3 separate regions of the Homo sapiens genome follow, and regions 2 and 3 are each linked to region 1. Evidence: fine-mapped expression QTL. A gene starts in region 1. Each other region holds a variant in brackets. All regions are shown on one strand. Distances are from middle to middle. Region 1 holds the start of TNRC6C (trinucleotide repeat containing adaptor 6C). Region 2 overlaps TNRC6C (trinucleotide repeat containing adaptor 6C). Region 3 has its middle 37 kb from the start of LINC01973.

The links.
Region 2: its variant is fine-mapped to the expression of TNRC6C in fibroblasts (GTEx, PIP 0.98).
Region 3: its variant is fine-mapped to the expression of TNRC6C in whole blood (TOPMed, PIP 0.97).

Annotation. Positions count from the first base shown.
Region 1 is chr17:77,953,564-77,961,747 of GRCh38, reverse strand. TNRC6C (trinucleotide repeat containing adaptor 6C) reads right to left here and starts at 3,045. Exons shown (of 23, transcript NM_001142640.2): 1 at 2,480-3,045. RefSeq lists enhancers at 2,110-2,668, 2,669-3,228 and silencers at 2,901-3,360, 3,381-3,430.
Region 2 is chr17:78,049,701-78,057,884 of GRCh38, reverse strand. TNRC6C (trinucleotide repeat containing adaptor 6C) reads right to left here. Exons shown (of 23, transcript NM_001142640.2): 5 at 6,437-8,184. Among named protein-coding and RNA genes, the nearest start is that of TMC6, 75 kb to the left of the region's middle. The variant A/G (reference allele first, on the strand shown) is at 3,428.
Region 3 is chr17:77,842,700-77,850,883 of GRCh38, reverse strand. No RefSeq gene overlaps it. Among named protein-coding and RNA genes, the nearest start is that of LINC01973, 37 kb to the left of the region's middle. RefSeq lists enhancers at 3,482-4,131, 4,132-4,779, 4,780-5,429 and a silencer at 7,049-7,148. The variant A/G (reference allele first, on the strand shown) is at 4,174.

The DNA.
Region 1 (8,184 bases):
AATCAGCATTCTAAAGGCAACTATTTACTCCAAAGTTCCTAAGCCAACTAAATATAAATGTAAACCTGTTTCGAAATGATGTTAGTGTTAAGACATATGCTACTCGAAACCCACCCTCGCCCCCCGCAATAAACACGAAGGACGAAAATCTAAAACCAACACTTACATATACTCCAGGTTACTACCAGAATATTTAAATGGCAGAATCCGAAATGAAATTGTTAAGATTAAACCTTATGACAGACAGTCTCAGTATCAACCGTATTTAATTTCATACCTTAAAAGTAAAACCGGCCGAGCGTGGTGGCTCACGCCTGTAATCCCAGCACTTTGGGAGGCCGAGACAGGCGGATCACCTGAAGTCAGGAGTTCGAGACCAGCCTGGCCAACATGGCAAAACCCCGTCTCTACTAAAAATACAAAAATTAGCCGGGCGTGGCGGCGGGCACCTGTAATCCCTGCTACTCGGGAGGGTGAGGCAAGAGAATCGCTTGAACCCGGGAGGCGGAGGTTGCAGTGACCCGAGATCGTGCCATTGCACTCCAGCCTGGGCAACAAGAACGAAACTGTCTCAAAAAAAAAAAAAAAAAGTAAAACCGAGGTAAGGTCAGCAAGGTCTTTGTTTTGGACAAGAAGCACAGAAGAGTTACAAACAAGCTTTTAAAATCAGATCCTTATAATAAAAACGAGTGTGTGTGTGTGTTTACTATTACCGTTTTCTGAGCTATCAATTTCTCACGGCCTGACTATGCCTATGGTCAGGTCATGAGAAATCTGTATGAAAAACAGCTTCCAAGAATGTCTATTCTTATGAAAATAAATATTAAAAACTTTCTGTAGAAAAAAAACTTTCAGTATAGGTAAAGTTACAACTGTTCACATCATTACTTTGTTCTATTAATACACACAAAATTAATTCCGACAACTGAACTAGTCATTTTAAAAACCCTGTTTTGCATTATTTCCCCCAACAAAGCATCCTAGGGGTGCTACAGTGAAACATGCTCAAAGACCATTGCCACCTCTGCTGTTCTGGAACAATGTAAATTTCTTCAAGGTGCCCTCTACTAACCAAGTTCATCTGGCCTGGGGCTAAGTTTTATCATTTATTCTTTCATACAGTACTGAAGGAAATCCGGAATCTATGAATATCATTGCCAACACCCCCTACACATTTCAAACCAGCTACCACTGTCCTCTGAAATCACTCAAGCCAGGTTTCCAGGGTCTCAACTCATTCGCATAGTTATTCAATTCCAACTGCAGGAAATCACTTGCATAAAGTAGGCCTTATGCAGGCTCAAATTACATTCAGGGACGTACGAGGCTCTCACAGCGATCACCATAAATTGGCTACCTTGTACTGGCCGAAGTACGTCAACGTGAACACCAGACACTCGAGAAAAACCGAACCTCGGCTACACAATGGATTAACCCAGTCAGAAGGCTCCAACTTGCAACTCCTTAAAGACGCTGAAGTTGGACATCTACAGAGCACCATTTTGAGTTTAGAATCCGCAGTTCACGCCTAGAAATAACCGAGCGGACCACTCAAATGGAGGTTTCATTTGGCGGAGGCAAAGGTTTGAGACAACTCCACTAATTACGTGCAGAATCACCAATACCGTCAAATGCCTTCGAATGCAATAGGTGCAGCCACGATCTAGCGGCTCCTCCTCCCCTACCTCCCGGCACAACATCCAAGCAGCAAGCCTTCATTTTTGCTAAGATCCCCAAAGCTCCGTGTAACATGCTTGCCAGTTATTTCTTCCCCAGGTTAACAGGCAGGGAACCCCCACATCCACATCTGCACATTTTCATAGCTACGAATCAATTAATTAAATCTCGTCCTCAAGGTAAAGGTGCAAAGGAGGCACCGCTTAAAGCAGAGGCGGCAACCAGGCGCTCGGGTTACGTTATCTGATAACAGGACAGATGTTGTACGGCTCGTTTTCCTCATACGCATTACTCCGCAGTCCGCAGCACCGTTAGAAAATCCACCTGATTTCAGAGCCGCAGAGCGCCCAGGGGTCCTTCTCCGCCCACCCGCAGCACGCCCCGGGTTTTTCTCTTCCCCCAAACAACGGCACCGGGCTCCTGCACCAAAACACGGCGGGTTCGCGCCTGCCATCACCAGTGCAAAATCTGCGGGGGGCTGCCCGGAAAGGACCGAATTTCACCGCTGCATGAGTTTTAAAAGGGAGGGGGCACATCCATCTTCAGCCCTCCATTCCACTCCCGTTTGATTGTGATGCACACCGGGCGTCTGCACAGCCCCGTCTCACACTAGCACACACGCGCCCCGGCCCCGGCCGCTTCCCGCCGCTCCCCTCAAACCCGGCCGGCCCGGGGCCTGGCGCCGCACGCGGGTCGCTAGGGGCCAGCGCCCGCCCCGGCTCGGCTCGGCCGAACAAAGGGCCCGCGAACCTCCCGGCAAAGTTGCGGCTGCGGCGAGGAGCGGGCGGACTGCCGCGCTCACCTGGGCTCCGTCCCCGGCGGCGGCGGCGGCTCCGCGGGGCTCCGGTGGCGCGGGCCTGGCGGCGGCGGCGGCACGAACAACCGCCCGAGGGCCTCGGGAGTGCGCGGGCGGCGGGGGCCCGCTCAGCGCCGGCGCCACGGACTCAGGTCCCGGCGCGGGCGGCGGCGGCGGCTGCGGCGGCGGCGCGGGCGAGTGGGCGGCGGCGCGTCCCGGCAGGTCCAGGTCCGGCCCCGGCAACGCCGCGACGCGTCCTCCTCCTCACGCCCGGCGGGATGCGGCTCCGGCGGGGTCCGGGTCCTAGGCGGCGGCGGCGGCGGCGGTGGCAGCTGCGGACGGCTGGGCGCGGGGCCGCTCCGCTCCCTCCGCCTCCGGCTCGGGCGGGCCCGCGGCTACTGCGACGGTGACGGCGGCGGGAGCGCGGCGGGCGCTGGGACTGCCCTGTCAGGGGGCGGCCCGGGCGGCGCTCAAGACTGCGCGGCGGCGGGGCCGGCGGCGGCGGCTACGGCTCCCGGGGCCGTCGCGCTGAGGTGCGGAGCTGCCACCGCGGCCATCTTGTTGCTCTAACTGACAAGAACCCCCCTCCCCCCGCTTCAGCCAGACGGGGCGCTCGCGCCCCCTTCCCCGCCCCGCGTTGGCCTCCAACAGGAAGTCGTCCCGGCCCCTAGCACGTGACTCCCACCGTATCTGCATACCGGAGGGCGAACTGGCCAATCGGCACTCTGCACCTGAGCTCCTCCCCCGCGCGCCCCTCCCGGCCCATTGGCTCCTCGGCCAGGCCACGCCTCCTCCTTTCCCCTTAATACCCGCCCGCGCTGTGGTTCCCTGCACCGCGCGGGGAGCGCGCCGGGGTGCGAGCGGTGCGCGCTCCGAGTGGCCGGGACGCGCGCCAGTCCTGGGAGCTTGCACTGCTCGGGGGGGTTACGTGGAGACTTGCGTGGTGTCCTTTACCGCCGCCGCCTGCCCTCCGGTCCCTGGGCGCTGTGGCTCCGCGTTAGGGTGCTGGCGGGAGGGGTGCCGATCCGGTTCTGCGCGTCCGGTGGGTTCTCCGGGCCAGCGCCCCGCGGCGCCCGGGCTTTATGCTGTAATTGCGCCCGGCGGCGCCCGGCGCCCGCACCGGCGCGCGTCTCGCCCGTGCCGTGCACACGCCCTGCACCGCCCCACTTTGCACACGCACACGCACACGAGTCCTTGGGGCCCTGGAGCATCGTGCTCGCCTCGCGCCTCCCGGCCCGCCCTTGCGCTCAGTCGCTCCCCAGGGAGCGCCCAGCTGCGAGCAAAACAAGCCTCGCTGCGAAACAGTCCCCCGGGGAGACAGCCCTTTCCCCGGAGCACAGACACCACACCTTCACCGCGCAAGCCTTCGGTCCGGGCCGAACCCGGGCGCTCCGGCGCCTACGCACCCCACGATTCCTCCCCGGTGCTCCGTACGCCGCCGTGATCCTCCATTCCACGGCTCCTCGATATCCATTATTCATTAGTGGTAGGTAAGGTCAGGCGCAATGTGCAATTCGAAAAGTCCCTTTTTAACTTTCGGTTCAAGCCAGGAGAAGATTTTGAAACCAAGAATTTTCTCCATTTTCATGCAAGGTCGCAGAAGCAGGCTAGCTTTTCCCCCATCGTTCAGTGGAGGATCAGCAGTGCTACTTGGAAGTTGGTATTGGAAGAGGCCATTCCCTGTCTACGTGTCCCTGTCTTGAAGAGGAGATAATAACACACTAGTACTTTCGCAATGCAATTTTGTTACCGCAAGTGTCATGCTTTGAAACGACTGTGGATGAAAGAGACAAATTCCCCGCTCTCGTTTCCCTTCAGGGTCCCATGAGCTCCTTTCTTCTTACTGCCATATTTTAAGCCCTCCGGTAGTCAGATTCACAACCAGCCTCTAAAGGGTCGTCAAATGTCTGTTGTATCGTGTTGTGTATTTCCCCTCCCGAGAACCCACATCCCTTAGAAGGATCTGAAGGCAGAGGGAGCTGACATGGAGGCTTCTGCCTTGTCTATTCATTTTATTTACGTTCATTTAATTCTCGACTGCAGAGAACCTACATCTTTTGTATTTCTCAAAGGTAGAGGTATTATCACATGCTCCAGAAGGGAGTGCAAAATAACATCTTCAAAATAGGCAGCGCCCACGAAGTAGACTGCTGCTACATAAATGAGGAATCCAGGTATCTGGGTGGACCAGAGTGGACCAATCATTGTGATAAGCAGAGCTTCACTTTTTGGAAAATTGAACCAAAATACATTATTTAGCATTGTCTTTGGTTCCCTTTCTTATCCCCCTCCCTCAGTTTAATCAGGCAAAAATCGTCCTCTTCTCCAATGATATTAGACTCTGAGCACCGAGAAAAGGCAGAACTATAGAGACTATATGTTCTGAACCCCAAACTGGACTCATAGTTTGGCATGTGGACCTGTGACAGTAGAGATAATGTTTGAAACTAAAGTTGACCCAGAAACATTGAGGCATATGGTGGCCATGAATGTTAAGACTGCAGAGCAGTGTCACTTATTAGTGGTTGTTTGAACTGATAAAGTATGAGTAGGAACCCCAGGCACAACTGTAAAAATGGGTACGTTCATGTTTCGGGTTGGTCATCCTGTTATCAGCCCTGCCACCACCACCTTATAACTAAGGTATAAGTTGATCATCTATAGGGCTGGGCATGGTGGCTCACGCCTGTAATCCCAGCACTTTGGGAGGCCAAGGCAGACGGATCAGGAGGTCAGGAGATGGAGACCATGCTGGCTAACATGGTGACATCTCTACTAAAAATACAAAAAATTAGCCAGGCATGGTGGCGGGCGCCTGTAGTCTCAGCTACCTGGGAGGTTGAGGCAGGAGAATCCCTTGAACCTGGGAGGCAGAGGTTGCAGTGAGCAGAGAAGGCGCCAATGCACTCCAGTCTGGATGACAGAGCTAGATTCTGTCTCAAAAAAAAAAAGGGTAAAACCAACAAAATTACGTTTAAGAGGACTAAATGTTAAATGTGTCTCTTAAATTAAAATGTCAACTAGTTGAGGACAAATGAAGAAGACTTAGCTGGATACAAGGTAATGTAAAAAATTCTAGTTATAGATGACCACACGTTCAACAAGGCTAAATGTGTGAACTGCTTGAAGACGACAACAACACTACGTTAAAATAGTGTCCAGTTTAAGAGATTGCACTCTGAGCTGGTCAGATCCCAAATGGAGTGTTTTGGCCAGTTCTGAGCACCAGGGTGCAAGAAAGAAATCGACAAAGTTAGAGACTGACTCAGAATACAGCCAGTTGTTGATGGAAATCCTCCAGTCTGACCAACAGCTGAAGAAGCAGAAGAGATTGGTGCAGGGAAGAAGAGACAAGCAGGCCAGGATGGCTCTTTTCAGATATTTTTGAAACTCCTGTATGCAAATAGGTACAGATATATTCTTTGAAATCCTGAGAAGCCAACCTGAGATCAGTGGGTGGTAGATATTAGGCAAATTAGTTCAAATATACACTGCACCCTACAAAATGGAGTTTCTATCAAATGGAGTTATTAATAGAAACTCCATTTCGTAGGGTGCAGTATATACTGCTCAGGTGATGTGTGCACCAAAATCTCACAAATCACCGCTAAAGAACTTACTCATGTAACCAAATACCACCTGTACTCCAACAAGCTATGGGAAGAAAAAGAAACTCCATTTAGAAAGGTAGCAAGATCCACATCTGTGCAGGGGTTTAAGTGGAAAGACAGGATGATCACGTCCCTATCTCCATGACTATTGCAAAACAGATTACTGTGTTGACTAGCTCAGGGTTTCCCAAAGTGTGTTCCCCCAGACCAGCGGCATTGGCTTTACCTAGGAGCTTGTTAGAAGGGCAACTTCTCAGACCCCATTGCCAGACCCAGTGAATCGAAACCTCTGGGGATGGGGCCCAGGTATCTCCATCTTAGCCAGCCCTCCAGATGATTCTGAGGCGATGAAAATTGGAGGAGAGTAATAAAGACACCTTTTTGAGGGCTGTATTTGCGTATAATACCCCTCTCCATGCCCAGTCACTTCCTACCACACACTGGTGCCTGAATTACTCCATCCTCCTATTTCTGTTGATTTTACACGTATAATTTGCATCCTAATGATGGACTCTTAAAGGGAAAACCTTCAGGACTCCAACAAATGATTGCTTTTCAATGAAAATGTAAGAAAGCCGGGCTCAGCTCTCCCTGCTTGTCACCGATAGATAGCAACTGAACTGACTTAGAAAAATGTGATAAATTTACAGAGGCCTTTCAGACAAGCAGCAAGGCACAGGGCGTCGGTTCTCAAACTTTCTGTTGATGAGAATCGCCAGGGTAGCTTGTTTGAATTACAAATTCACCTTAGGTCCAGATGAGGCCCATGTATCTGCATGTCTAATCAGCTCCCCAAGTGATTCTGATGCCTTTGTCCTCCCACTATGCTGATAATAATATTGGAATAGAGACTAGAACCTTACAATAAAAGTAAGGGTGAGTCTCAACTCCACTGCTCACTAATTGTTTGACCTTAGGCAAGTTTCTGGGCCTCTGACTTCTCCTTTGTACTCCTCACTGAGTTAGAGATACTTGCTGAATTGCCGTGTATTACGTGCCAGGCAGCGAACTAGGTGCCAGGGATTTAAAGCTGCAAGCCGTGCTTGAGCTATGATTACAATGCATGGAGGTGCTGCAGGAGACAGAAGAGACTCAGGTCATTCTGAAGGGCTCAGGAAGACTTCTCCAAGGGCCTCAGATCTGAGTCTTGAAAGATGCAAGGGAAAGCAGTAATAGGTCAGAAGCTGATGGAAGGGCACTGAAGAAAGAGGGAAAGGTCAGTGTAAAGGAAACCCAAGAGAGCTTGCAGCGCAGCACTTTCAGGGGGCTGGAAGACATTAGTGGGGCTGCAACAGCCCAGGTAAGAGGAGATGGGAGAGATGAGCAGAGGCCAGATTATTATTATTATCTTTGTTTTTTGGAGATGGAGTCGTGCTCTGTCACTCAGGCTGGAGTGCAATGGCACAATCTTGGCTCACTGCAACCTCTGCCTCCCGGGTTCAAGCAATTCTCCTAACTCAGCCTCCCAAGTAGCTGGGGCTACAGGTGCGCACCACCACGCCCGTCTAATTTTTTGTATTTTAGTAGAGATGGGGTTTCACCATGTTGCCCAGGCTCATCTCAAACTCCTGAGCTCAGGCAATCCGCCCGCCTTGGCTTCCCAAAGTGCTAGGAGTACAATTGTGAGCCACCACACCCAAGGCCAGATTATGAATACAAGGAGCATTTCATGTGACCTTAAAGAGTTGGTACTTTATCCTTAAGGCAATGTGGAGCTCTTGGATGATTCCAGACATTATTACACTTGACTGTTAAAGAGAGCTCTCTGGAAACATTGTAGCAGATGACCTGGAAGAGGAAGGGCCAGGGAGGAGGTGATGGCAGGGGGTAGGCGGCCTGCACAGTTCTGCAGCCAGGAAACTAGAACTTATGGAATCCCCTAGAGTAGCAATAGAGGTTAAACGGAGAAGACCTGCTTGAAAGATAACTTTAAATTCAGCTCTGGGGGACTTGGGGTCTGACATATCTGGAGGGTAAGAAAATGGTAAAAGATGTTGCCTCGTTGTCTTTCTCAGTGAGAAAGGATGGATGGTGAGGAAGGGACTGTGGAAGGAGGAGTAGGCTGAGCTCGAGTCTTTGGGTGGGACCCTGAGGAAGAAG
Region 2 (8,184 bases), 96 kb before region 1:
GGACAAAAATGATTGTACTGTAGCATTCGTTCCTTTAAAACAACACACACACACACACAAAAATGTAATTCAGAAATCATATTTTATAAGACAGGAGAGATCAATACCCTTAAGTGGTAATGATCCACAACTTAAAACCCAAACTCTGACATAAGTGAAAATTCTATAAATTCAGCATAGGTCAACCTATGCTGAATAAAACCTAAAAACACCAACTTTAAAAATAGCAGAAACTTCATGAAGTAGTCACAAGTGGAAGGCTTTTGTCTGGGAATCCCAGTAGCTATGGAAAGCTGCGCAGGCATTCAAGCCAGTGGGCAGCACGGCCCAGCAGGTGCTGAGACTGCTGCTGCCCTTGCTGACCCTGACTGCCCAGATGGCACAGTCCCCAGAGAGGAGGGCAAGGGGCTGCCACCGGGGGTAATGCCACTCCTGCATGCTGTCACCTCTATGAAGGGAACTGGTGTGGAACTGTTACTTCTACAGGCTCAAATAATAGCTTGGTCTAACAAGTTTGGAGAGTGAAAGGCTATGATTACTTGTAATTCTTAAGGGTGATGAACTTTGCTCTCACTGCAAAAGAAGGCTTGGTTCATGTCTGAGAGTTAAACATCACAGGTAATACAGGGCAGGAATAATACTCAGTGTAGCCACTTTATGCCAGTGGTAGAAAAAGAGATTAATGTTATAAATGAAAAAAATGAACAAATAACCCCATATGTTGTACAATATACTAAACTTAACATACTTTCAGCATGTGAGCACACTTCCACATGGAAAAAAATTTGTGTAACTTTTTATTTGTCTCTTTTAATTGGTAAAACTAGATTTGCAACTGCTCCTATAGTATTGCTACACCTACAAAGAGCACACGCATGCACAGGCTGCAAAAGTTGCAGGGGAGAACAGAGTACAGAAACACTCTGTTAAGGTGTAGCAGTTACAGCACATTTTTCTTCTTTATATTTGGTGATAATATGTGCAATTTGTTTAAAAAAATCTATAAATATTTTTCATATAAAAGAGAATTATTTTGGCCCTTTTAACTGAACAAGAATGCCTTTCTCAGCATGAAGCTCCCATGTTTTGGCTACTAAAAACAAGTTAAAAGTAGTTTCTGGGCCAGGCGTGGTGGCTCACGCCTGTAATTCCAGCACTTTGCGGGGTCGAGGCTGGCTGATCACAAGGTCAGGAGACCGAGACCATCCTGGCTAACATGATGAAACCCCGTCTCTACTAAAAATACAAAAAAAATTAGCCGAGCGTGGTGGCGGGCACCTGTAGTCCTAGCTACTCGGGAGGCTGAGGCACGAGAATGGCGTGAACCTGGGAGGCGGAGCTTGCAGTGAGCTGAGATTGTGCCACTGCACTCTAGCCTGGGCAACAGAGCAAGACTCTGTCTCAAAAAAAAAAAAAAGTAGTTTCTGGGCCGGCCATGGTGGTTCATGCCTGTAATCCCAGCACTTTGGGAGGCTGAGGTGGGTGGATCACTTGAGGTCAGGAGTTCCAGACCAGCCTGGCCAACATGGTGAAACCCCATCTCTACTAAAAATACAAAAATTAGCCAGGCATGGTGGTGATCGCCTGTAATCCCAGCTACTTGGGAGGCTGAGGCAGGAGAATCGCTTGAACCCGGGAGGTGGAAGTTGCAGTAAGACGAGATTGTGTCACTGCACTCTAGCCCAGGCAACAGAGTAAGACTCTGCCTCAAGAAAAAAAAAAAAAAGTAGTTTCTGGCCAGGCATGGTGGCTCACACCTATGATCCCAACACTTTGGGAGGCCAAAGTGAGAGGATGGCTTGAGGCCAGGAGTTTGAGACCAGCCTGGGCAACATAGCAAGACTCTGTCTCTAAAAGAAAAAGTTTCTAAGGATCACGTATCAAAGGGGAGAGATCCCCCAACAAATGCAATGTGGTTCTAACCTCTGTAGGGTGTCATGGATGTAATATTTTAGAAATGTCAGCAGGTCATGGTATATATTACACATCTGAGACTTCACCATCTCCCTCCCACATATGTACCCTTGGAAAGCTACTTAATCTCCTAGGTCTCATTTGTAAAATGAGGCCCAAGGAGCTGTAAAAATCCAATGAGGTGATCCATAAAAATGCTCCATACATGACTGCCAACCATGGCCAGACCACATTTATTGCACGACTCCAGTGCCAGGCATAGGGCCCTCTGTAGCCTGAACTCTTCCAGGAGTTGGCATTCAAATTGGGACTATCCACTAAGGGTGGATGGGACACACAAGCCAATTTAAAATAGTCATGGGCTGCATAATGACGGTTTGGTCAACTGACTGCGTACAGGACAATGGTCCCCTAAGATTATATATAATGGAGCTGAAAAATTCCCATCACCTAGTGACGCCATACCCATCATAATGTAGCGGAATGCATTCCCCACGTGTTTGTGGTGATGCTCGTGTAAACAAACCTACTGTGCGGCCAGTCACAGCAAGGTCTAGCACACACAACTGATGATGCTGATACAAGACTATGTTACCAGTTTATGTCTTTACTGTACTTCCTGTTATTGGATCTCCAATGGGACAACGTGTGGAGGTGGACAACAGTGATACTGAAGATCCCGGCCCTGTGTAGGCCTAGGCTAACGTGTGCGTTTGTGTCTTAGTTATCAAAAAAGTTTAAAAGGTACAAAAAAAAAGCTCATAGAATAAGAATATAAAAAATACTTTTGTGAAGCTGTACAATGTGTGTTTTAAGCTAAGTGTTACTGAAGAAAGTATCTTTTAATCTTTTAATAAATGTAGTGTGGCCTAAGCGTACAGTGTTCACCAAGTCTACAGCAGTCTACAGTGGTGCGCAGTACTCTGCAGTGGTGTACAGTGCTGAACTCTACTTTGCAGTGGTGTACAGTAGTCCGCAGTGGTGTATGGTAGCGTACAGTAGTCCGCAGTGGTGTATGGTAGCGTACAGTAGTCCGCAGTGGTGTATGGTAGCATACAGTAGTCCGCAGTGGTGTATGGTAGCGTACAGTAGTCTGCAGTGGTGTATGGTAGTGTACAGTAGTCTGCAGTGGTGTATGGTAGCGTACAGTAGTCTGCAGTGGTGTATAGTAGTGTACAGTAGTCTGCAGTAATGTATAGTAGTGTACAGTAGTCCACAGTAGTCTCCAGTAGTGTACAGTAGTCTGTAGTAGTCTGCAGTGGTGTATAGTAGTCTACAGTAGTCTGCAGTAGTCTCCAGTAGCGTACAGTAGTCTGCAGTGGTGTGCAGTAGTCTGCAGTGGTGTATACTAGTCTACAGTAGTCTGCAGTGGTGTATAGTAGTCTACAGTAGTCTGCAGTGGTGCGCAGTAGTCCACAGTGATGTACAGTGCTCTGCAGTGGTATACAGTGGTGAACTCTACTTTGCAGTGGTGTACAGTAGTCTGCAGTGGCGTGCAGTAGTCTGCAGTAGT[A/G]TACAGTAGTCTGCAGTGGTTTACAGTAGTCTGCAGTGGTGTATAGTAGTGCACAGTACTCTGCAGTAGTCTCCAGTAGTGTACAGTAGTCTGCAGTGGTGTGCGTAGTCTGCAGTAGTGTGCAGTAGTCTGCAGTGGTGTGCGTAGTCTGCAGTAGTGTGCAGTAGTGTCCCAAGCCTTCACATTCACTCACCACTAACTCACTGACTCACCCACAGCCACTTCCAGTCCTGCAAGCTCCACTCATGGTAAGTGCCCTATACAGGTGCACCATTTTAAATATTTTATACCATATTTTAATGTCCCCTTTTCATGTTTAGATATATAAATACTTACCATCGTCCTACAACTGCCTACAGTATTCAGTACAGTAATATGCTGTGCAGGTTTGTAGCCTAGGAGCAACAGGCTGTACCGTATAGCCTAGGTGAGCAGGAGGCTATGCCATCTAGGTTTATGTAACTATACTTTATAATGTTAACACAATGCTGAAATTGTCTGATGACACATTTCTTAGAATGTATCACCATTGTTAAGCTATGCATGACTGTATTAATTCTGTTCCTGGAGCTTTTTTGTTTGTTTGTTTAAAGAAATGGGGTCTCGTTATGTTGCCCAGGCAGGCTTTGAACTCCTGGGCTCAAGCCATCCTTCCACCTCAGCCTCCCAAGTAGCTGGGATTACAGGTGGGGGCTCTCAGATCACTTTCTGCATACCTTTACTATAATGCTAATTAAACTCTATTAAATTTGATATTACTAGCCTGTCCCACTAGACTATTCCTTACTTAGGAATAATCTTATTTTTCTTTCTTTCTTTTTTTTTTTTTGAGACAGAGTTTCGCTCTGTCGCCCAGGCTGGAGTGCAATGGCCCCATCTCAGCTCACTGCAACCTCCGCCTCCTGGGTTCAAATGATTCTCCTGCCTTCACCTCCTGAGTAGCTGGGATTAGAGACATGCGCCACCATGCCCGGCTAATTTTGTATTTTTAGTAGAGATGGGGTTTCACCTTGTTGGTCAGGCTGGTCTCGAACTCCTGACCTCAGATGATCTGCCCGCCTTGGCCTCCCAAAGTACTGGGATTACAGGCATGAGCCACCACGCCCGACCTAATCTTATTTTTCAAATCCCTTCATTTTCCTTCTTCCTGCTTCTCCTTATCCCCCCAAGTACTTTATAAAATGTAAGGGCCTAGAAATATTAGTCATATATTAGTAAACAATTGGAATCACAAATTCAAGTACTCCAAGGAACCAGTCAGTTAACGTAAACAGGCCCAGCGTAAGAACAGCAGCGCAAGCTTGATGATGCTCAGTGGCTACTGATCAAAAGCCTCAGTGTTGGGAACCGTCAGGGGTCGGGGGGCAACGTGACATGGTATGGAGAAAATGCACAGGCCCTTATGAAGGCAAGTGGCTCTGACTGACTGCTGCCATGTGAATCCAATGTCAGACTTTTCAGGTTTCCAAAGGAAGCCAGAAATCTGGAATTTAATATAAAACATTTGCATTAAAAAAATGCCAATTCACAGAAAAAATGTGGGCCAAAAAGGCACATTTGTGGGACTAGGTGCAGCCCACGGACCACTGATTTTTGACCTCTGGTTTAGTGACACTGATGCGTTAGCTGGAGGCTAAAACTGTCTTGAGGATCCATAAAGGATTCCTGATGTGGCAGCCTCAGAGAGGTACACAAGTGAACCACCAAGAAGTCTACGAGGAGGCTGGAGGGCCCAGCTGGTGGGCCAGGGGAGGTCCTGTAGGGCAGTCATAATTGAATTAATGCAGCAGGCAGGACATTCTCCTGTTGAACGCTTATGACAAAAACCAAAAAGGTGCCCAAATGCCCAGGCTGCCCTACACAAGATGGTGATTCCCCAACTCCAGTGGCCCCCGCATGCAGACCTTCTGGGCTTACTGTTTCCTCCCTGCACCATCACTGCCCAACACTACGTATATACTTTAATTCGTGTGTTGTTTGCCACCCTCACTAGATCTAGACCCCTCCATGGCAGGGTTTTGACTGTTTTGCTTCCTGCAGTTTCCCCAGCTACTAGAGTACAGCCTAGTACATGGCAGGTCCCAATAAATTCACTGTGTATGGTGATCTCTGGGCCCTGACATTGCCCAGCAACCCTCCAGGGGCCCCAGTCAAGTCAGTTCTCTGTTCCTGTCCTCTACATGGGCTAATGCATGCTCCCTCTCTACTCGTGCTGCTGCTCCTAGCCAGCCCTCCTCCACTCTGGGCTAGTATTCACACTCCCAGAGAGAAAAGAACCCCAGAAGGTGGCCTTGGCCCTCTGGCCATGACAGCCTGGCCCACCTGTGCAGCGCTCTTTCCTGCTCCTTGCTTCACGAGATGGATGAAGTGCCCTTGTCCTGCTGGACACAGGGATCTCTTCCCTCTTCATTCATTCTCATCTCCACTTGTTCCTTTCTAACAGCTCTGAAACATGCTCACGACTTTGCCACCTTAAAATCTCTCTACTCTGGACCTTGCCCCTCTGGCTGAGAACTGGTCTTCCGTATCTGGGACCTTTTATTGTCCTCACTGGACACTTGGAGCTCTGTGCCTCCTGCTGTGCTCATGGGCATGTCAGTGAACTGACACAGTCATCTGCCAACTTGCCCAAGTTCTGAACCATGTCTATCCTATCTTCTTTGCTCCTGTATCCAAATGGTTACGAAATCTTGGAATCATGCACTGTCATTGCTTTCAAATCCATCATCTCCACCCCAGGCCACCACCGCCACCACCAAAACATTCGCTTGATGTTCTACTGAGTGTGCTTAATATATTTTTTTCTTGAATAGAAAACCACCAGAGGATCCTACTTTGCTCTCACTGGATAATCTTTAGATACAATATTGCACGGTGATAGGGAACTTAAATTATTTTAATGCTATTTGCTATAAAAAACACTACTCGGAGTATTCATGAATATATAATGAGAATAAGCTTTTTTTTTTTTTTTTTTACTTGTAAAGAAACATGAAATACCTTTCCTACCTGGACCAAGCAACGGTGATCGATTCAGCTGAGTACCGGCCTGGTGCGGGGGCGGCGTCTCGACCCTGTGTGTGGTGTTGCTCGTGGTAGTGGTGGTGGTGGTGGTGGTATTGGTCGTGGTACTGCTCTGGATGACCGGGTTGTTTCTATCCCACATGTTTACAGTTTTATTGTTATAGTTGCTTGGGTCCCCCCAAGCTGAGGTACCATCATCAATTTCCATTTTGCGGCGAATGGACGGTGGAGAGGGTTCTTCCCAGCCAGTTGCTTCACTGCTGTCCTTCTGTTTGACCGGTACCGGCCCCCCGATCCACCCTGTTCCTGTCTGTTTCACAGAAGCAGCTCCTCCCCAGTTACTCACATTGTTGTCTTGGGGTTTGCTAGCCCAGTTCTGTTGGGGGCCAGGTTTTAAAGTCTCCCCCCAGTTTGTACCTGGATTGGCCTTTGTATTTGTGCTGTTGCCCCAGCCACTGTTCCCAGATCTCGTGGTGTCATTCCAACCAGACCCTGACCTATTACTGTCAGCATCCCATCCAGATCCATTTTTTTTCCCATCCCCCAAGTGTCCAAGGACAGACGATGAATCTGCCCAATCTCCCCCTCCTGCACTCCAGGCTGGATTTGATCTTTGTCCATCTCCCCAGTGTTGGGATTTGGGCTTTGGAGGCTCACCCCAGGTGGGTGACTTGTCCTCCTGATTTGCGGCCCCACTCCAAGCATGGCCACTCTTGGCAGCAGCAGCAGTACTAACAGCAGTAGAGCTTATCGAGTCCCCCCAAACCCCCGGGCCACTTGGCGCTTTGTTGTTGCTGTCTCCCCAACCTGTGTTTGCTGGCACAGCGGCAGGTGGCGCGTTGACCCACCCAGATACTGAAGAGGTATTTGTACTGTTCATGATGGACCCATCGTTCTTCCCCCCTGAGTTTGAAGCCTGAGTAGCTGCACAACCCCAGGCCTCTGTCCCATTGTCATTTTTCCTTTCAGACCTAGGGGATTCTTCAAATTCCCAGGCAGTGTTTTGCTTTACAGGAGTCTGTCCCCAACCAGTATTAGACAGAACTCTTGGGTCAAGATCATTCCTTGGCAACTGGATGTGCCCTTGGTCTATAATCCCTTTATCTCGCCTTCGGCCTTCTCCCGTTCCTTCCCTCCCAGTGCTTCCTTCATTGTGGTTGCCAGAACCATCACTACTTCCTTCACTTGCTGTAGTTCCAGAAGATGCCGCTTTGGCCCAGGAGTTCATGTGTTCACCACCAGGCTGTACGGTAGGGTTCTGGCTGGTGACACTAGGACTCTCCCACCCTGTTGATCCTTTCCCATTGATGTCACTGTTGGAATGCTGGTTTGGGGGCTTTCCCCATTCCCCATTCACACCGTTAGAGGTGCTTCGGCTGGGGTGGCCCCAAGCTCCTGAATGGATATTACCAACGCCATTGTTGCCACTGCCCCTTCCCCAGGCGAGTATTCCAGGACCAGCAGGAGGTCCTGAATCCCAAGCATTTCCTCCACTTCCTTCCTTTTGCACAGCACTGCTGGATCCATTTTGTTTAGCACTTAATGCTGAGTTCACAGTGTCTCCATTCCCCTGACTGAACCCAGAATTGCTATTTCCTGTGGCAGGGTTACCTGGGGACAGTCCCCACACAGAATTGCTTATTCCTTCAGCACTGCCCCCACTGACTTGAGAAACTGATGATCCATTAGCACCAGGAAGGCCTTGCAGGTGGGGCGGGATGATGGCCCCCATA
Region 3 (8,184 bases), 110 kb after region 1:
TCCACATCTATATCCATATCCAATCTATCCATATCTATATCCATATCTATATCTATATCCATATCCATATCCTTATCAATATCTACATCCATATCTATATCCATATCCACATCTATATCCATATTCACATCTATATCCATATCCAATCTATCCATATCTATATCCATATCTATATCCATATCTATATCTATATCCATATCTATATCCTTATCAATATCTACATCCATATCTATATCCATATCCACATCCATATCCATATCCACATCCATATCCATTTCCAATCTATCCATATCTATATCCATGTCTATATCCATATCCATATCTATATCCATATCCATATTCAACCTATCCATATCTATATCCATATCCACATCTATAGCCATATCCACATCTATATCCATATCTAATCTATCCATATCTATATCCATATCTATATCCTTATCAATATCTACATCCATATCTATATCCATATCCACATCCATATCCATTTCCAATCTATCCATATCTATATCCATGTCTATATCCATATCTATATCCATATCCATATTCAACCTATCCATATCTATATCCATATCCACATCTATATCCATATCCAATCTATCCATATCTATATCCATATCTATATCTATATCCACATCTATATCCATATCCAATCTATCCATATCTATATCCATATCTATATCCTTATCAATATCTACATCCATATCTACATCCATATCCACATCTATATCCATATTCACATCTATATCCATATCCAATCTATCCATATCTATATCCATATCTATATCCATATCTATATCCTTATCAATATCTACATCCATATCTATATCCATATCCACATCTATATCCATATTCACATCTATATCCATATCCAATCTATCCATATCTATATCCATATCTATATCTATATCCATATCTATATCCTTATCAATATCTACATCCATATCTATATCCATATCCACATCTATATCCATATCCACATCCATATCCATTTTCAATCTATCCATATCTATATCCATGTCTATATCCATATCCATATCTATATCCATATCCATATTCAACCTATCCATATCTATATCCGTATCCACATCTATAGCCATATCCACATCTATATCCATATCCAATCTATCCATATCTATATCCTTATCAATATCTACATCCATATCTATATCCATATCCACATCTATATCTATATCCACATCCATATCCATTTCCAATCTATCCATATCTATATCCATGTCTATATCCATATCTATATCCATATCCATATCTATATCCATATCCATATCTATGTCTATACTCATATCTATGTCTATGTTTAGTGCCCGGAATATATAAAGAACTTCAGTATGAAAGGACAGCTGAGCCCCCACGTTTACTGCAGCACTATTCACGGTAGCCAAGAGATGAGATCAACCTCAGTGTTCATCAAGGACGCTGGATAAGGGAAATGTGGTTCATATGCCCAGTGGAATATTATTCAGCCACGAAAAGAATGAAATCCTATCATGTGCAGCAACATGGATGGAACCGGAGGTCATAATATTAAGTGAAATTAGCCAGGCACAGAAAGACAGATACTGCATGTTCTTATATGTGGGAGCTAAAAAAATGGATCTCATGGCAGTAGAGAGTAGAACAGTGGTTCCCAGAGGCTGGGAAGGGTAGGGAGTTGGAAAGAAGATGAAGAGAGGTTGGTTAATGGGTACAAAAATACAGTTAGATAGAAGGAATGTGTTCTAGTGTTCAATAGCATGGTAGGGTGACTATGGATATCAATAATTTGTAGTGTATTTCAAAATAGCTAGAAGATTCAGAATGTTCCTAACAAAAGGAAATGGTAAATGTTTGAAGGGATACATGTCCTAAAATCCCAATTTGATCATTACAGATTGTATGCATGTACCAATATATCACATATACCCCATAAATACGTACAATTATTATGTGTCTATTAAAAACCCAAAGTAAAAAAAGAAGGTGATGGCGTAGAAAAAGGTGCTCAACCACATTAGTCATCACAGAAATACAAATTACAATCACAGCATTACACCGAATCCAAGAGAGTGGTTCAAAAGAAAAAGACATCCCAGATGTTGGTGCCGAGGGGCAGCTTGGGGCCTCCCACAATGGTGGAGGGAGGGTGAATTGGTACGACCACTTGAGAAAGCTGGCAGGACCTACTGCAGCCAAACACATGTCCACCCAACAGCCCAGTAATTCCCTTCCCAGGCATTTCGCAAAGGAAACGTGTGCAAATGTTCACCAGGAGACTGCTCATGACAGCACCGTAATAGCCCAGACTGAAAACCGAGCCAAGCATCCATCCACAGAGGCATATGGATATATGGATGGTGCTTTGTTCATGAGATGGGCTGGGCTACAGCAGTGAGAGGAAGGAGCTATGACGTCATGTGGTGAGGCTCAGACTCCACGTGGGAGGAGAGAGGCCAGATGCAAGAGCGTACCTGTCGTGTAATTCCAAAGGAGGCCAGATTAACCTCTGGCGTTAGTAGTCAAGGTCGTCGTTGTCTTGGGGGTATTAATGACAGGAAGAGGTAGAAGAGGACTCGGGAGCTGGCAGTATTTTCTTCTTGATCTGAGAGCTGAGGACATGAAGGTACTCACTTTGTGAAAGTCCAAATGGAGTTGGACACATAGTGTTAGACTTTTCTTTATTCATACTGTACTGCAAGAGAAAGTTAACTTAAAAGAAGCTGATGCAACAGGGACCCCCAAGAAGAAGGTCTTGAGCCCAGTTGGGGGCGCTTACTCCGGGCTTGCATTCGTGCACTGTGAGGCTGAAAGTGGGACAGAGACCACATGGTTTTCAGAAGGTCGTCACAGCCATGGACATCCCAGCCACGGACTTCAGAGAGCGCCATGCTTCCGAACGCTCACTCTCTGAGAAGACACAGCACGGGGTATGGAGGGTCTGGGCAGATGACTTGTCCAAGGCCGCTCACAGGGAAGACCAGAGCTCAGCATCCCAGAGAACCCTGCCCAGTGCTCATTCTGAGATCTCGTCCCTGTGTGACTGGTGGCTCTGCCTGGGGACAGCGGCTATTTTCTTCCCTCTACTGGTGGACTTTGGAGCCTCCATCGTTCCTGGTCTGGGGTCCTGATGACTTGCCCACCTCCAGGCTGTCCTTGACCTGCCAGTCAAGTGGATGAAACATGTCAGTGCTACATCAGATCCCCACCCACTGAGAGCCTGGGGCCTGGGTGACCCCTGCAGAGCCAGACCAACTCAAAGGAAAAGAGCAACACAGTCCTAGGAGGCTGCTGTGGCAGGAACAGGGGAGTGGAGGCAAAAGGGGAAGCCTTGCCACCTCAAAGACCGGGGAGGGAGGGACTCAACAGTCTTGGGCAGAGTCCTGGGTCCACCCCTCGAGATCCTGTTCAAGTAGGCCGGGGAGGGTGGGAGCCCAGGACTGCTTTTCGCCAAATGCCGCAGGTGAGTCTTGGGCAGGTGGGCTTCCTGCACAGCTGGAGGCAAGCCTGGGAGAAGGGCTCTCGGCCGGCCCTGCCTGAGGTTTCTTTATCGCGTCCCTGATGCCATCAGAGGGGCAGTGCTTGGGGGTGGCCAGAGGCAGAGTTTTGGGACGGGAGGAGGCTCTGCCACTCACTGGCTGAGTTCCTTGGGCAAGCTGGGCCTTTCAGATCTTCAGTCTCCCCATATGGTAGGGCCTCCTCTCAAGGCTTCTTTGGGGATAGGAGTGAGTCTGCAGCAAGCAGCTGCCCACCCCACTGCACTCCACTTGCTGAGAGGGAGACAGGAAGCTGCTTTCCCATCCAGCGATGATCACAGCTCCATCCTGGACCTGCAAGGTGCAGATGTGTGAAGACCACGTGGGTGCTTGACCACCTGTGGCATTTGCAAAGCAGTGAGAAGAGTGAGGCTGTCCATGCCAGGCTGTCTGGCTGGTCCCCAGAGGCCACACCCACAGGTTGCCTGGAACTGGGGGCTCCTTACTTATCTCTGCCCCCAAGCTCTGGGTGTTCCTCCCCTTCCTGCCTTGCTGCTACCCTGAGACTTCCCCACCCCATGCCCAGCCTGCGGTAGACAGTCCAGGCCTTCACACACCCCATCCCCAGGGCCTTCTCTCTTCCCTCTGATTAACAGTAGCAGGGCCTGAGCCACAAGTGGGAGGCCCCAGAGGAGGAGGTGGA[A/G]TGTGAGTGTGGTAGAACCTTCCAGGCCCCCCCACCCACAGGAAACACCTGGCCTCCAGGGCGCTGGCTTCACATAGGAGCCCAGAGGAAGCCCAGGACTTCAGGGCCAGCACCTGCCAGGAAGTCCTGGGTGCCAGGGGCTCTGTGGGGAAGGAGGGCCAGTCGGCCCAGGTGGCTCATGGTAGGTCACTGGGGAGGGTGTGACAGAGCTGTCCTGTGGCTGTGCTGGGAAAGAAGGGACCATATGGATTCACGGTGGGGAAAGGGGGCCGGAGGCAGGAGCACCCAGGCCCTGGGTGGTCAACAAATGTGCAGGCAGGAGGGTCCTGGCTGAAGCTGAGGGCACTACTTCTGGCTTTCATGGAACCTTCTGGGACTGTACTGAGCCCCCTCCTGACCCCAGGGGTCTATAATGAATTTGCCTGTTCCAAGATGACCTGTGCGAGGGAATTGCAGCCTCTTCAGGGTGACAAGTGCCAGCCACCCCTGTGGGGTTTCATAGGAGGAGCTGATGGCTGCCCTGACGGTCACTATGCAGTCCCCGGCACCTTGTCCACCCCACTGGGCTGGGGCTCCTCCACCTTGAAGCCCCATGTGTCTGTGGATGAGACCAGCTTCTTGGCTTTTTTCCGCCCAGTCCTTCCCTGACCCTCGGGATGGAGGTGCGAAGAGAGACCCCACAGCTGAATGGTGAGAGCTGCAGCCGTGTCCAGAGTCCACCCTTAGCCTGTGACACCTTCCCTGCAGCCCCGGGAAGCAGAGAGGCCCAGTCCCACCCAGGGGGCCACCTGCGGGCAGCTCTGCGGATTCTCTCCCCACCTGTTTCTCTAGTGTGTCTTGACAGACAGAGGAGACAGACGGCCCCTCCTCAGCTCCCCAGCTGCCAGGGGCTCTGAGTAAAATGCAGTGCCTCTTCCCGCAGGCCTTCTGGGGACAGTGAACTTACCTTCCTACCAAGGGTCATTTCGACAGGAGACAGGAATGATTCTCCGGCCCCAGAGAGGAGCTGCCCCCACGGTCAGGCTCCGACTGACTGAGCTGAGCGAAGGCTAGAAAAACAAGAAGGAAGAGCCCCCCGACACCCTGCAGGGCAGGCCCGTGAGGTGGGGGCTGACTGAGAGGAAAAGGGGGGGCATAGGAAGACATAGCCCTGAGACGTCCTTAGAGGGGCAAAGCAGCGGCCTCAGGAGGTGACCTGCTTGGCTGCTTGGGTCTTGTCCTCCCTGGGTTTTTCTTATCTTTTCTTTTCTTCCTTTCCCTTCGGTTCTCTCTCTCTCTCTCTCTCTCTTTTTTTTTTTTTTTTTTTTTTTTTTGTGAGATGGGGTCTCGCTCTGCCACCCAGGCTGGAGTGCAGTGGCACAATCTCGGCTCACTGCAACCTCCACCTCCTGGGTTGAAGTGATTCTCCCACCTCAGCCTCCTGAGTAGCTGGGATTACAGGGGTCCGTCACCACACCCAGCTAATTTTTGTGTTTTTAGTAGAGACGGGGTTTCGCCATGTTGGCCAGGCTGGTCTCGAACTCCTGACCTCAGTGATCTGCCCACATTGGCCTCCCAAAGTGCTGGGATTACAGGTGCGAGCCACCATGCTTGGCCTCCCTGGGTTTTTCTGAGTAATTTTATGAGGCAGTTTGCAGCAGTCTGGTGGGGAGAATGGCAAATACCCCCCAGTGCCGTTCACTGGACTTGCCCAGTGGAAGAGGGTGGGTGACCAGCACAGGGTGGTGGTCGGGGAAGCCTGACCCCGGTGACAAGCAAATGGCGAGTGGACAAGTAGAGAGAGCCTTTGGAGAAGCATGGGGAGGCAGGCCTGAGCTAGGGGGGACTAGCAGCGACACAGGCTCCAGCGGTCACGGAAGGCGGGCTGGTGGGTGTCCTATGCTCCGGGGCCGGCTCTGTGTTCATCAGTTGTGTGACCTGAAGTACAGGTTTTGTTTTTGTTGTTTTTGGTAAATCAAGGTGAAGCTCACAGCTCAAAATGAGCCGTTTTTAAGTGTACAATTCCTGGCATTTAGTATATTCAATGTTGTGCAGCCACTACTTCTGCAAGTTCCCAAACCTTGGCATCACCCAAGAGGAAACCTCGTACCCAGTGGCAGTCAGTCCTCCTTCCTCCTCCTCCAGCCCCTGGAAGCCACCAATCTGCGTTGTTTGCATGCATTGCCTCCTCTGAACAATTAATAAAAATGTAATCAGTACTTTGGGAGGCTGAGGCGGGCGGATCACCTGAGATCAGGAGTTCAAGACCAGCCTGGCCAACACGGTGAAGCCCCCTCTCTACTAAAACATACAAAAATTAGCTGGAGGTGGTGGCGAATGCCTGTAATCCCAGCTACTTGGGAGGCTCACGCAGAATGGCTTGAACCTGGGAGGCAGAGGTTGCAGTGAGCCGAGATCGTGCCGCTGCACTCCAGCCTGAGTGATAGAATGACACTGACTCCATCTCAAAAAAAAAAAAAAAAAAAATGCAATCAGGTTAAATGGGAGCTTTTGCCTGTGGCCTGTGGCCTCTCTCACTGAGCTTTATGTTCTTAGGCTTCATTCATCTAAGAGCTTCATTCCTCTTTAAGGAATCATATTCCGGTGTATGGATGGACCAAAATTCATTTGTCCATTCATTGTTTGATGGACATCTGGGTTGTTTCCACCTTTTGGCTGGCATGAATAATGCTGCTATGAACGTGTGTGCACATGTATTTGTTTGAGTGTCTATTTTCAGGTTTTTCTGGCTATATTCATAGGAGTGGAATTGTGGATTATATAGCAATTTTATGATTAACTTTTTGAGGAATCACCAAATTGTTTTCCACAGTGGCTGAAACATTTTACATTTCCACCAGCAATGTGTAAGTGTTCTAATTTCTCTATAACCTCACCAACGCTTATTTTCAGTTTTAAAACAAAATTATAGCTGTTGTCGAGCGTGTGAAGTGGCACCTCAACCTCATTGTGGTTTTGATTTGCATTTGCCTGATGACTAATGCTGGTGAGCGTCTTTTCGTGGGCTTCTTGGCCACTGGTATGTCTTCTCTGGAGAAATGTCTACTTACGTCCTTTGCTTGCCCCTTTTTTGATCAGATTCCCAGGCAGGTTTTTTTTTTTTTTTTTTGAGACAGTCTCACTTTGTCACCCAGGCTGGAGTGCAGTGGTGCGATCTCAGCTCACTGCAACCTCCGCCTCCTGGGTTCAAGCAATTCTCGTGCCTCAGCCTCCCAAGTAGCCAGGACTACAGGCATGTGCCACCACAGCTGGCTAATTTTTGTATTTTTTGGTAGAGACGGGGTTTCACCATGTTGGCCAGGCTAGTCTCAAACTCCCAACCTCAAGTGATCTGCCCGCCTTGGCCTCCCAAAGTGCTGGGATTACAAGCATGAGCCACCGTGCCTGGCCCCGAGGGAGAGTTTTAAGCCTCTTTGAGCCTCAATTTTCTCATCTATAAAATGGGGATCATGATAGCGCCTCCTTGGTGGAAGGTGGCCAACCCTCCTGGTTTGCCTGAGATTATCCCAGTTTTTGCAATAGAAGTCTCTTGTCCCAGGAAGCCCCTCAGGCCTGGGCCATCTGGGACAGTTGGTAACCCTACATGGGATTGTCGAGAGGCTGAACCAATAGGGTGCATAGGAAACTCCTAGCACCGGGGACGGCCCAGAGTTCCTGCTCAGCCAATGTCAGCTCTTATTCATTGTAATCCTCTTAGACACATGTGCATGGTAGAGACCTCTGACATGTAAAAATGCAAAGGCAGAAATAAAAATCATCAATAGCCGACCACATGTGGGAAACATTTTGGAAGGTTTTAGTTTTCTTAGGTGATAGAACACTGAATGTGTTAATATAGAGAGGGGGAAGAGGCAGGAACAGCAGTGACTATTTAATGACTCATATTTATTGAATGCTTATTATGTAGCAGCCATGGAAGGGGGAAGTTGGAGGCACAGGATAAAGAGGAGAAAGCTGATGGTGGGAGGGTCCCTTAGAGGCAGGGAGGTGAAAAGGAAGTTGTTGGGGATA